2 separate regions of the Homo sapiens genome follow, and region 2 is linked to region 1. Evidence: fine-mapped expression QTL. A gene starts in region 1. The other region holds a variant in brackets. All regions are shown on one strand. Distances are between the middles of the regions.

Region 1 (4,000 bases):
TGCTAATTCCTCCTCATAAGTAACCTTCTATTGAGTACTTCAGTTTCCTGGGCACCCTGACATTGAGAATACCATACCCAGTATAGCAGACACAAGCAATCCAATCATTTGCAAGGAAAAGCCCCAATGTCCCACGCCAATTCCACTGTATTCAATTGGTATTTCTGTTTCTATAAGGGTGTCTTGGGCTTATGCTTAGGCTAGCTGACCTCCCTCTATTATTTTTATATTTCATTCAGCAAAAACGTACTGACTGCCTTCCATGTACCAAGCACTTTGCCAGATGATGGTGAATAAATGTAATCAAGTTCCAACTGCATCTTAAGCAAAAACAGCAACGCAGCAAAGTGTGGTGAACTCTTTGTGAGCAAAAAGAAATCCAATCTGCCTGAAGCAATGAGCATAAACAGGAACGGTGGGAAAGGGAAATTAGGACCAGTTCACAGTCTTAATCAATAAGCTGCAATGTAATGTGAAAATTTTTAAAACACCTTATTCTGCAGTTAATATCTAAGGCAATTCCTGGCCGGGGGTGGTAGCTCATGCCTGTAATCTAGGCACTTTGGGAGGCCGAGGCAGGAGGATCGCTTGAAGCCAGGAGTTCGAGACCAGCCTGGGCAACACAGCAAAATCACCGTCTCTACAAAATAACAATAATAATGAACTAAGGCAATTCCTTATGGTCTTTAATTTCATTTTAGTCTTCCCTCTGCAGGATCTGAGCACTCAAATACGGGGAGGAAAAAAACAAAAGCCAGGCTGTTATTAACACTCTCTCTTCCAAAGTGACACAGCTGACAACCAGACCCCTTTTTACCTGCCCCTGCAATGGGGATCCTAACTGTTCTCCCCTCTTCCTGACCCTTTTCCTTCTTCCATCCATGTTCCTGGAGCCATATCCCCTTTCTTGAAGCTAATTTTCTTCCTCCTCCCCACTCTCCCCCTCCGCGTTCCCTAAAGAAAGCTGGACCTGGATCCAGTCTAAGTCCCAAGAAAGCTTGGGGAAGCACCTTTGCTTACAGAGAAACTGAGGCCCATGGAAGGAAGAATTAGAGAAGCTGCCTTCAGCTCAGTAAACAGGCGACCTAATTTCACAAATGTAAATGGGGGCACCACCCAAAAACCAAGGACTCAAAGGAGGCAAAGCGTTCTACCAAGTGGGGCTTACTCAAACTCCTTCAACTGGTCTTATCGTCATGATAACTGTTTTTCCAATGCCTGGCTCCATCTCATTCCTTCAGAACTCAGCTTAAATGTCACCTTTGAGAGAGCCCTTCCTGGCCACAATCCAGTGGCCCTGCTCCCATATACGGTCTCAGCACCCACTTTCTATTTCGCTCGCGGCGTCTGCCATGATTAGGACCCTTTGGGATCCCCGCGAGCGTCTCGGGGCGAGGGGCTTGTCCGCCTCACTCGCAGCTGGACGCCCTGCACTCGGAGCGTGGCTGGCTCGCGGGAGGCGCCCGGGCCGCCCGAATGAATGGATGGATGGACGCGAGCGGGCAACGGTCGCCAGGCCGAGCCCGGCGCGTCCCCCGGCGCCGCCTCCCTCGCTCCCGGCCCGCCTCACCCGTCCCCCGGCACCTCCCGCAGCTTCAGCCCCAGGGCCTGCAGCTGGTTGGCGAAGCTGACGAACTCCTCCTCGCAGCCGCCGCCGCCGCCAGACTCCGGCCGATTCCGCCGCTCCTTGGCCAGGGCCCGGCGCGCCGCCCGCTCGTCCCGCTTGCGCTCGGCCTCGGCTTTCCGGCTGCCGCTGCCCGGCCGGCTCTTCGCCGCCTGCTTTCGGGACATGGCCTTAGCCTGCAGTCCCCAGCGGCAGGAGGGAAAGGCGCAGGACCCCCCAGCGTCCGCCTCAAGCGTTGGGAAGGTAAAACAGCGCGGGCAACGGAGCCCGGCGACGACTACGCAGCAACCGCGCCTGCGCCGGCGCCCAGCACCCCGGTCACATGATGGAATCCCCGCCTCTTTTGCGGGGCTCGGCGAGCAGACGCCATAGAGAGCTGGAGGGGCACCCATCTTGGTTTGTTCTATTCCGCCCTCTAGTGGTGGATGGTACTCAACGTGAGTGGCAGGAGCGACCGGAGAGGGACCAGAGAGAACAAAGCAGGAACAAGTCAAGCAGAGAAATTAAAGATGATAGAAGAGTGGAACACAGAGCAGCGGCAAAAGTTAGGACCGGAGATGAATAAAAACGATTTAAACTCTTGCTGCGAGCCTACTACAGTTGGATAGGCACTTTCACACGGCTCATTCTTGTTTAATTATCCCCAAATTACAGGAAACTGAATCTGAGTGGTTAAATAATTTCAAGATCACACAGCTAAAAGGCAGAGCTTTGCCCTGGCTCCAAAGCCCGCATACTTGTTTATTTAATCCTGCCCTTCATCTCTCCGCCTTCCTTCGTAACTCAAGGGAGAGGTCGCCCTTCTGTCCAAGACCACTGGAAATCCTAATTCCATCCTAGAGCGACCCACCTAGGTTTGCCTGGACTAGAGGTTTTCTTGGGATGCAGGACTTTCCGTTTTAAAACTGAGACAGACCAGGCTGGGCGTGATGGCTCACACCTGTAATCCCAGCACTTTGGGAGGCCGAGGCGGGCTGACCACAAAGTCAGGAGATGGAGACCATCCTGGCTAACACTGTGAAACCCCGTCTCTACTAAAAATACAAAAATTAGCCGGGCGTGGTGGCGGGCGCCTGTAGTCCCAGCTACTCGGGAGGCTGAGGCAGGAGAATGGCATGAACCCGGGAAGCGGAGCTTGCAGTGAGCCGAGATTGCACCACTGCACTCCAGCCTGGGGGACAGAGCGAGACTCCATCTCAAAAAACAAACAAACAAAAAAACAAAAACAAAAACTGAGGCCAGGTGCAGTGGCCCACGCCTGTAATCCCAACACTTTGGGAAGCCGAGGCCAGGGGATCGCCTGAGGTCAGGAGTTCGAGACCAGCCTGGCCAGCTGGCCAAGATGGTGAAACCCCATCTATATTGCGTGAGGCTGAGGTTTGGAGTACAAATGAATCTGTCACCCAGGTAGTGAGCAAAGTACACAATACACAATAGGTAGTTTTTCAACCCTTTCCCCCAACTGCCTCCCGACTCTTGTATTCCCCAGAGTCTATTGTTCCCATCTTTGTGTCCATGTGTATCCAATGTTTAGCTCCCACTTATAAGAACGTGCAGTATTTGGTTTTCTGTTTCTGCCTTAGTTCACTTAGGATAATGGTTTCCAGCTGTATCCATGTTGCTGTTCTCCCCTCTTCCTGGACATGATTTTGTTCTTTTTTATGGCTGCATAGTATTCCATGGTGTATATATACCACATTTTCTTTATCTAATCCACTGTTGATGCGTACCTGGGTTGATTCTATGTCTTTGCTATTGTGAATAGTGCTGCAGTGAACATACGGGTGCATCTGTCTTTTTGATAGAACGATATATATTCCTTTGAGTATAGACCCAGTAATGAGATTGCTGGGTCGAGTGGTAGTTCAATTTTTAGTTCTTTGAGAAATCTCCAAACTGCTCTCCACAGTGGCTGAACTAATTTACATTCCCACCAACAGTGTAAAAATGTTCCCCTTTTCCCCACAGCCTCAGCAACATCTGCTATTTTTTCTTTTTAACAAAAGCCATTCTAACTGGCATGAGATGGTATTTCATCGTGATTTTGATTTGCATTTTTCTGATGACAATAAGAATGCAAAAGAGAGTTGTAAAGATTAAATAAAAATGTAAAGCCCCAGGCATGAAGTAAGTACCTATTTAATGAAGTTGTTTGAATCAGTTCTCTGGAAATCTCATGAGCTCAGGGGCAAAGACTTTCAAACTTTAGAAACCAGGGAAGAAAGGTTTCTCACCAGCAAATAAGTAAATACAGACTGCTAACATATTGATAGAAAAGCGAACACTTGCCCGTCTTGTAAAAATCTTTTTGGCTGGGCGTGTGGCTCACGCTTGTAATCCCAACACTTTGGGAGGTGGAGGCGGGCGGATCACCTG
Region 2 (4,525 bases), 44 kb after region 1:
GATCTACTTCCTGACTCTATGTATTTGCCTGTTCTGGACACTATAAATGGGATCATATATGTGGGTCTTTTGTGTCTGCCTTCTGCTAGTTAGTATAATGTTTTCAAGGTTTATCCATGTTGTAGCCCGTGTCCATACTTCATTCATTTTATAGCTGAATAATATTCCATTGTATTGATAGATGACATTTTGTTTATCCATTCATCAGTTGATAGACATTTGGGTTGTTCCCACTTTCCAGCTATTATGAATAATGATACTATGAGCATTCATGTATGAGTTTTTATATGAACATGTTTTCAATTCTCTTGAGTATATACCTAGGAATGGAATTGCTGAGTCATATGAGAATTCCATTTTTAGCTTTTTGAGGAGATGACAAAATGTTTTCCAAATCATGTGGCTGAATAATTTTGCTTTCTCACCAATAATGCATGATATGAGGGTTCCAATTTCTCCACATTTCCCCCAACACCTGTTATTGTCTGTCTTTCTGATGATAGTTATTCTGGTGGGTGGGAAATGATATCTCATTGTGGTTTGGGTTTGCATCTTTTCACCTGCTTATTGGTCCTTTACATATCTTCTTGGGAGAAATGTCTGTTCAAATTCTTTGCCCATTTTTAAATTGAGCTATTTGTATTTTACTGTTAAATTGTAAGAGTTTATTATATATTCTGGATACTAGACTCTTTCAGTTATAGAATTTGCAAATATTTTCTTTCATTCTGTGGGTTTTTTTTTTCACTTTTGTGATCGTGCCTTTGGAGCATAAACTTTTTTTTTAATTTATTTATTTTTGAGACAAAGTCTCACTCTGTCATTCAGGTTGGAAGGGAATGGTGTGGTCACGGCTCACTGCAGCCTTTGCCTCCCAGGAGCAAGCTATCCTCCCACCTTAGCCTCGAGTAGCTGGGACCACAGGCACACGCCACCATGCCCGGATAATTTTTTGTGTTTCTTGTGGTAGAGACAGGGTTTCACTATGTTGCCCCAGCTGGTCTCAAACTCCTGAGCTCATGCGATCCATCCACCTTGGCCTCCCAAAGTGCTAGGATTATAGGTGTTAGCCACTGCGCCCAAAAACATTTTTAATCTTGATGAAGTCATTTTTTTTTCAGTTGCTTGTGCTTTGTGTGTGACATCTAAGTAGCCACTGATTATTCCAAGGTCATAAAGATTTGCACCTATGTTTTCTTCTAAGAATGTTACACTTTTAGCTCTTACATTTAGGTCTTTGGTCCATTTTGAGCTAATTTTGTTAAATTATGTCCAACTTCTTTCTTCTAAATGTGGATATCCAGCTATTCCAGCACCATTTGTTGAAAAGACTATTCTTTCCCTCATTGAATTGTGTTAGCATCACTGTTGAAAATCAATTGACAAATGTATGAGTTTATTTCTGGGCTTCCAACTCTATTCAGTTAATCTATACATCTATTCTTATACCAGTGCCTCATGGTCTTGACTACTACAGCTCCTTGTGGTAAGTTTTGAAATTGGGAAGTGTGAGTTCTCCTATTTTATTCTTCTTTTTCGAAATTGTTTTTTCCTATTCTGGATCCCTTGAATTTCCATATAAATTTTAAGATTAACTTGTCAATTTCTGCAAAAATAAAGCCAGTTAGGTTTTCCATAGGAATTGCATTAAATTGGTAGATTAATTTGGGGTGTGTGGATATTTTAACAATATTAAATCTTACAATCCATAAACATAGGATATCTTTCCATTCATTTAGGTTTTCTTTAATTTCCTTCAACAATGTTTTGTAGTTTTTAGAGTATATATTTTGCACTTCTTCTGCTAAATGTATTCATATTTCATTTTTGTGATGCTATTACAAATGGAATTTTTTAAATTTCATTTTGGAGTTGTTAATTTCTAATGTATAAAAATAGAATTGATTTCGTATATTGATCTTGTATCCTCAGTCTTGCTGAACCTATTTATTAGCTATAATAATATATACGTGGGAGTGTCTGGGAATGTATTCCTTAGGATATTTTATATAAAAGATCATGTAATATGCAAATAGAAAGAGTTTTACATCTTCCTTTTCAATCTACATGACTTTCCTTGCCTTTCCTCTCCTTTCCTTTCCTTCCTCTTTCCTCTCTTTCTTCCTTACTTTCTTCCTTTTTTTCTTTTTCCTAACTGCTCTGTCTAGAACTTCCACAATAATGTTAATAGAAATTGCAATAATGTGGCTAGGCACGGTCGCTCACTCCTGTAATCCCAGCACTTTGGGAGGCCGAGGCGGGCAGATCACTTGAGGTCAGGAGTTCGAGACCAGCCTGGCCAACATGGCGAAAACCTGTCTCTACTAAAAATAAAAAAATTAGCCGGGCATGGTGGTGGGTGCCTGTAATCCTAGCTGCTTGGGAGGCTGAGGCTGAGGCAGGAGAATCGCTTGAACCCAGGAGGTTGAGATTGCAATGAGCCAAGGTCGTGCCATTGCACTCCAGCTTGGGTGACAGAGTGGAAAAAAAAAAAAGAAGAAAGAAAAAGAAAGAAAGGAAGAAAAGAAGGAAGGAAGGAAGGAAGGAAGGAAGGAAGGAAAAAGGAGGAAGGAGTGGGCAATAATGAATATGCTTGTCTTGTTCCTCATGTTAGGGAGAACACTTTCAGTCTTTCATTATTATGATCTTAGCTCTGGCTTTTTTTTTTTTTTTTTTTT[G/TG]GTAGGTGCTCTTTATCAGATTTAGGAAGTTCCTTTCTAGTTCCCTAGTTTCCTGAATGTTTTGTTTGTTTGTGTTTGTTTTTGTTTTGTCGAGGCAGCGTCTCCATATGTTGCCCAAGCTGAACTTGAACCCCTGGACTCAAGCAATCCTCTCATCTCAGCCTCCTGAGTAGTTGGTACTACAAGCACATGCCACTGTGCCCAGCATCTTGAGTGTTTTTTATCTTGAAAGTGTGTTGAATTTTGCTACTTTCTCTGTAGCTATTGAGATGATCATGTAGTTTTTTGTCTTTTTCTATTAAAATAGTGTATCACATTAATTGAATTTTGATATGTTGAACCAACTTTGCATTCCTGGAATACACCCCACCTGATTGTGGTGCATAATCCTTTTTATATATTGCTGGATTTGGTTTGCTGGCTTTTTGTTCAGGAATTTTGCATCTATATTCATCAGGAATATTGGTCTATTTTGTTTCGTTTTTCTTGTGATATCTTGGTCTGGTTTCGGTATTAGGGTAATACTGGCCTCAAAATATGAGTTGGGAACTATTCCCTCCCCTTCTATTTTTTGGAAGAGTTTGTGAAGAATTGTTAATTCTTCTTTAAACATTTGATAGAATTCATCAGTGAAGCCATCTGCTCCTGGATTTTTTTTTATAAGAAATATTTTAAGGTATTAATTCAATCTCCTTACTTGTTATAGATCTATTCAGATTTTTTATTTCTTATTGAGTCAGTTTAGTAATGTGTGTCTTCCTAAGAGATTGTCCGTTTCATTTAGATTATCTAATTTGTTGGTATACAATTGTTCATAATATTCCCTCATATTACTTTTATTTCTGTAAGGTCAGTAGACATGCTCTCTTTTTCATTCATTGTTTTAGTAATTTAGGTCTTCTTTCTTTTTCTCTTGATCAGTCTAGACAAAGGTTTGTCAATTATGTTGATGTTTACAAAGAAGCATCTTTTAATTTCATTAATTTTTCTCTATTATTTTATTGCCTCAATTTTACTTATTTCTACTATAATCTTTATGATTTCCTTCCTTCTGCTTTCTTTGGATTTAGTTTCTCCTCCTCCTTTTCTTTCTTCCTCTTCCTCTTTTGTTTTCTTGAAGGGGAAGTTTAGGTCATTGACCTGAGATTTTTCTTCATGTTTAATGTACACACTTACACCTGTAAATGTCCTTCTAATCAACGGCTTCAGCTGCATACCATTAGTTTTAGTGTGTTGTGATTTTGTTTTCTTTCATCAAGGTATTTCCTAATTTCCTCTGTGATTTCTTTTTTGACTCATTGGCTATTTCAGAATTCATTGCTTAATTACCACATATTTGTGAATGTCCCAAATTTTCTTCTATTATTGATTTTTAATTTTCTTCCATTGTGGTCAGAGAACTTAACTTATTATTTCAAACCTGTTACACTTATTGTGACTTTTTTTTTTTTTTTTGAGACAGAGTCTTGCTCTGTTGCCCAGGCCAGAGTGCAGTGGCGTGATCTTGGCTCATCACAACCTCCGCCTCCTGGATTCAAGCAATTCTCCTGCCTCAGCCTCCCGAGTAGCTGGGACTACAGGTGTGCGTCACCATGTCCGCTAATTTTTGTATTTTTAGTAGAGACAGGGTTTCACTATGTTGGCCAGGCTGGTCTCAAACTCCTGACCTCATGATCCACCCGCCTCAGCCACCCAAAGTACGGGGATTACAGGCATGAGCCACCGTGCCCAGCCTTTTCTTTTCTTTTCTTTTCTTTGTTTTTTGTTTGTTTGTCATTTAGAGACAGGATCTTGCCCTGCCACACAGGCTAGAATACAGTGGCATGATCATAGCTCACTACAGCCTC

Evidence for each region. PIP is the estimated chance that this variant, and not a neighbour inherited with it, causes the effect.
Region 2: its variant is the best candidate, but not a certain one, in a credible set for the expression of OTUD3 in NK cells (Schmiedel 2018, PIP 0.53).

What each region holds. Positions count from the first base shown.
Region 1 is chr1:19,880,305-19,884,304 of GRCh38, reverse strand. It overlaps OTUD3 (OTU deubiquitinase 3), which reads right to left and starts at 1,910. Exons shown (of 8, transcript NM_015207.2): 1 at 1,571-1,910. The coding sequence starts at 1,791. All of the region lies in intron 1 of LOC105376823 (a long non-coding RNA gene), which reads left to right. RefSeq lists a silencer at 1,367-1,706 and an enhancer at 2,077-2,126.
Region 2 is chr1:19,836,302-19,840,826 of GRCh38, reverse strand. No RefSeq gene overlaps it. Among named protein-coding and RNA genes, the nearest start is that of RNF186, 23 kb to the right of the region's middle. The variant G/TG (reference allele first, on the strand shown) is at 2,679.